2 separate regions of the Homo sapiens genome follow, and region 2 is linked to region 1. The links come from fine-mapping of genetic effects on gene expression. Tissue or cell type: tibial artery. Region 1 holds a variant in brackets; the other region holds the start of a gene. All regions are shown on one strand. Distances are from middle to middle.

The links. PIP is the estimated chance that this variant, and not a neighbour inherited with it, causes the effect.
Region 2: COCH starts here. The variant in region 1 is fine-mapped to the expression of COCH in tibial artery (GTEx, PIP above 0.99).

The regions. Positions count from the first base shown.
Region 1 is chr14:30,772,295-30,774,978 of GRCh38, forward strand. No RefSeq gene overlaps it. Among named protein-coding and RNA genes, the nearest start is that of COCH, 100 kb to the right of the region's middle. The variant A/C (reference allele first, on the strand shown) is at 1,351.
Region 2 is chr14:30,873,533-30,876,216 of GRCh38, forward strand. It overlaps COCH (cochlin), which reads left to right and starts at 1,027. Exons shown (of 12, transcript NM_004086.3): 1 at 1,027-1,059; 2 at 1,384-1,440; 3 at 1,524-1,571. The coding sequence starts at 1,407. COCH-AS1 (COCH antisense RNA 1) reads right to left here. Exons shown (of 5, transcript NR_038356.1): 5 at 2,647-2,684. RefSeq lists a silencer at 589-1,108.

The DNA of each region.
Region 1 (2,684 bases):
TCTTCTCTAGTGTTCAAGATTAATGTTCTCTTCCTTTGTCCCTTCCACATGCCGTGCTGGAAGAAATAAGGACCAAAACAAATACAAAAGGGTAGGGAAGAGTCTTGTTTTGTGACTTTTGTTTTGGTCCTTATGTCTTCCCACATTGCTGCTGAGGCTCTGGGATTTCCCCGAGGACTGCTCTTCTGCACATATTGTTTTTCTGACACCTTTTAAGTGGCTGTGCCCTTTCACACCTAGAGAAAACTGTTCCTGTATCCCTTCAAAATCTACGATAATCTCTACAACCTTCTGAAAACAAACAACAATGTATTCTTTGATATGTCAATAGGGTTCAATTTAGCAGTGATTCACATATGGTACTGCATTTTGAACTGGTGACTTCCATTTGTGAGCTACTGCTGAATACTCATCTCTTGAATTCTCAAACATAATTTGCTGTTTTCTGTGCTGTTGAGAGGCATAACCCTCTTTCCATCTAAGTCTTCAGCACAGACTGGAGGTCATCCTCCTTTCCTCTCTAAAATCCCAGGAAAAGCTCTCCTGGACTTTGGCTTCTCAATATCAGTGGTTGAGAAACATGCTGTAGCTTCAAACTACAAAATAGTTGGGGTGATCTTAGCTATATAACAGGCAGAGGAAAATGGCAAGGAATGCCAAGACTATGAAAGTTTTCAACACAATTTGCAGTATTAGAATCTGAGAGCTACGAATTAAATTTGTTCATGCATTCACACACTGATTCACACATATTCTGAGTGTATAATTCATTGCCATACAATGTGCTAGAGGCTGAGGAACGTCCTCTATGCTACATTTGCCAGCATAAAAATCTTCCCCACCATTGTCTGATTTCATGTGTGAAATGTAGAGTGCTTCCTCTAACTTCATCTGTCCAACAATATTATGGTGTAATAGATTATATTTAATAAGTTCTATGCCATATCCCTTGGGGGTACAAGTTTGACTGCATATTTCCAGACAGTGGGGAAGCAGCTTTCTCATTAGATGAGGAGATTGTCAAGGCACTCTGCAACTGCCCTGTTTTGTTGACTGTATACAGACTTCAAGACAAACCACTGACCCAGGCCCATTCAAAGCATCAGCTTGTTAACAAGGACTGAAGCCCAAGTCTGGTTATGGTCACATAGCACCCAGATCATGTAAGGACTGGGCCAGCAACACTTCCCGGTAACGCAGAGCTAAATGGTCCCACTGAACTCTGCTTCACAGACAGTATTCGGTCCAAAACACATGGGTCATCCAAGAAATATGAAGCCAAATTAAGGCGGCCAGAATTCCCTTTGAAAGGCCAGCAGACAGCATGGCGCCAGCATGGCATCAAGCTCC[A/C]GACCAACATCAACTTCTATAAATCAGTGGTAGGAGGATCTAACTTCTTTTAATGTAGGATAAAACTTGGACCCACCACAGATGTCACATCTGACTTCTTCCTCAGGCCCTCTAGTGTTCCCGGTCAGCACTCCTGAATATTAAGTAACAGATCCAAAGTCACTTAAATCCTGGGATGTGATCAGTCCACCAAAACTGGAGCCACATTTTACTGTAGTGTAAGTCCATAGACCACATAGTCACAACACAAAATCACAGCAGCAGTTACCTTGGGGGGTTCCTAGCTGGGAGAGGGCATGTGAGTGTTTTTTAGATGGTGGTAATAGAAGAGAGAGACACACACCGTGCAATTACTAACTAGCACAGTGTCGATTTCACATTAATGTTTTCTTAGAAAGAAAACGAGAAAGTTTGGGTTGGGTTTCTTGATTTTTTTCTGGATATTTTAGGTGTTGGGTAAATCTTAAACACCATTATTCCGCTAAATACCTCCCCACCCTCCTCCTCTTCACCTCACTGAAACAACTGATGACTAAGAGCAAATATCCAGCCAAACCAATAATGGTATCATCAAATTGTGGGGACAAGGGCTTACAAGCACACCTGTGCTGTATGATTTTTTTTAAGGTAACTGGACAACAATCACACACTAATAGAGGAAGGATTCCAAATTTCCAGGTTTTCATTCCAAGGCTTTTTCTGCTAGGTAAGAGCAAAGGAAAGATATTTAAAATGAAGCCAGGCTGAACTACTTTATTGATGAGGCAGTCCTAATAAAGCCTGAAACCCATAAGATTTAAGTGATAAACTATGAAAGTAAAGACTTTCAGCTTAGTGTTACGGGGGGAGGGAAAAGAAAGTGCACTAATTAAGACATACCACCCTGTTATATTCAGGTGGTCCATTCAGGAATCACAGTTCTTAACCAAAAAGCAAGGACATTTACTTTTAGAAACATTCCAACAGAGTGAAATTCAGTACAAAAAAAGAGACGGGGAAAGTGGAAAAACAAGTTCACAAGTTTGGTGCTTTGAGCTTGTATTGAATTCATAATTTTGAAAAACAAATGTATGATATTTCATACATAAACCTAAAACTCATGGAATGGTAGCACACACTCACAGTGAAAAACAGCCAAAGATAATGGTAAGCTATAAACTCCATTAGAGTTCATCTAGTTTACCCACCCCACCTTTATAGATGGAAAGAACAGAAGCCATACCTAGGGATGAGGACAAACCATAGGTTTGGCAAGGACAGTAACCTTAATGCCACACAAAAGCCTAACACCTTTGAGATGGCCTCCTCGCCACACTGGCTTTGCCATCTTTCCA
Region 2 (2,684 bases), 100 kb after region 1:
GCTTGTGGTGATGGTTGTACAGCTCTGAAAATTTACTAAACATCATTGAACTGTACACTCAAAACGGATGGATTTTATGGCATGTAAATTGTAACTAAATAAGGCTATTTGAAAAAGTTTATATTGTACCAGAAAGGTTAGCGTCTGGGCCTGGGTCTGGTTCTTCCGCTGCCATGCAGGTCGCCTGTCACTAACACTCCTCAAGAATTCTGCTCCTTCTCCATTTCCATTTGTAAAACGTTAGCAGGATGGTGCGGGGAGAAGGAGAACACATTATCAAATCTGAGATTCTGTGCAGTCACAAGACACCAAGTCTGGGAATTTCGAAAGGCAATCAGGCATAAATTCTTCCTGAGGTGAGAAAGAAGCAAAGGTACCGGCTGCTGGGGTCAGGGCTGTCTCACACGCGTGGCTCTAGGCAGGAGCACAAATTGAACCACTGGGGAAAGTAGGACTCCAGCAGAAACGAAGGCGCAAGGCCGAATCCCTAAGGTCCAACGAGCTAGCAGTCAGTTGACAGGGTTTCTAACAAAAACGCGGCATGCGTTTACCAAACCTAGGGTGGTTTTATTTCAGAAGTAGGAACTCTTTCCACGAGAGCACCAAGTTGAGAAGTTCGGTTCTCAGGCCGCGTGGACCTGACAGCTCTCAGAAGCTCCAGGCCTCGCTGGGTGGGGCGGGTAGCGGCCGCCGCTGCCTCAGCAGCCCTGGTCCCGGCAGAGCAGGGCTGGCGAGGCCGCTGCTGCCGCCGTCGGGGCCGCCGGCCCTCCACACTCGTTGAGACGCCGGCACGGGGACCTTCGTGCCCCTCTAGGGACTGGCGCCGCGTCCAGGTGGCCGAGCCTGCGCTGCTGGAGGAGGCGCCTCCGCGCCGGCCTCACCCCGGGGCCGGCAGGGGGCGAAGGCGGAGCTGGAAGTCGCCGCCGGGCCCCGGGGGACCGGCTCCCGCGCTTCCTCCCGCGCCCCCCGCACAGTGCTCATGCGCACGGCCCAGCCTTTATAGCGGCCGCGGGGGCCTTGCCTTCCGCACTCGGGCGCAGCCGGGTGGATCTCGAGCAGGTGCGGAGCCCCGGGCGGCGGGCGCGGGTGCGAGGGATCCCTGACGCCTCTGTCCCTGTTTCTTTGTCGCTCCCAGCCTGTCTGTCGTCGTTTTGGCGCCCCCGCCTCCCCGCGGTGCGGGGTTGCACACCGATCCTGGGCTTCGCTCGATTTGCCGCCGAGGCGCCTCCCAGACCTAGAGGGGCGCTGGCCTGGAGCAGCGGGTCGTCTGTGTCCTCTCTCCTCTGCGCCGCGCCCGGGGATCCGAAGGGTGCGGGGCTCTGAGGAGGTGACGCGCGGGGCCTCCCGCACCCTGGCCTTGCCCGCATTCTCCCTCTCTCCCAGGTGTGAGCAGCCTATCAGTCACCATGTCCGCAGCCTGGATCCCGGCTCTCGGCCTCGGTGGGTGCGCGCCCCTCACGACCCCGGCCCCTTGCTCCGCTGGGTGGAGGCTGGAGCCAGCCCTCACGCTTCTCTCTTCGCAGGTGTGTGTCTGCTGCTGCTGCCGGGGCCCGCGGGCAGCGAGGGAGCCGGTGAGTGGGGGAGCTGGGGTGCGTCCAGGCGGTCGCAGGGGCTGAGCACCAGCGGGTACAAGCGGGACTCAGATCCAGCCCCTTGGGCTTCAGCCCTACCGCCTGAGGAGGAAGGCGCGAAGGTTGAGCCGCCGCGTGGCGCGCCCGCGTTAACCCCTGCAGCCGATCTGCTCCTGCTCACCTGTTTCTCCCATGGTAGGGGGCCCCTGGGGTCCAGTGGGGGGACGTTCTCCAAGAGCACTAGGAAGAAGGCCTCCTCCAGGCCCACCCACAGCCCCAGACCCCGGGCCCGCTGAGCGCCGGCAGCAGGAGGTCGAGGAAGGAGGACTCCTTGAGCCTCACCGAGGAGCGCACCAGTCCTGGGCTCTGCTGCGTTTGGGGGTGGAGGAGAAGCCGCCCAGACCCGACTTCAGGTTGCCGTAGCCGAGAGAGAGGGAGGCGAACGTCGCTGTCCCACCTTGTTTGACTCGCTAGCTATGTTTCTAGGTGTAACCCCTATAATCAGAAGCACTCGCGGTCTCACTCTACACGCTAGAGAGTTTAAAAAGTTTGTACCACGTGTAGAGGTCCGGGTATGGGTGTGTGGTTTGGTGTATTTTCCAGTGTAAAAGGCAACGCTTTCCTAAGAGCTACCGTTTGTTTTCCTTGAAAGTAGGAATGAGGGTTAAGTATCCCTCATGGCTGTATTTCTCCCGCTCTACTTAACAAAAGTCAGTGTTCGCAACTAAAGGCGGTCGGTCTTGGCACCGGATTCCGATGCCGCCCCCATCTCAGCGGAAAATGGGAGGAAGGATTAAGGCTGTTTGATGATAGGTATGAGGCTGTTTAGGGGTAAGGATTTTAACCTCTCAGCTCTCTAGACTGCTTCAGAGCTAAGAAATGGGCATTGCGCCTGCATCCTTCCTTCTCTTCCATGGAATGTAAGGTACCTGTCACCACAAAGGGCACAGAGGAGGGTGCTTGTCACAGGCAAGGTACTCAGTTGGACAGTATGGCCAGAAAGTATTCCTCTGCCTTGGAAAAAAAAGGTTTTTAAAATTAATATATGTTTTAAAAAGGTTTGGATAACTACAACTTCCCATGTTTGAAAAATAGCATTTAATAACATTAATC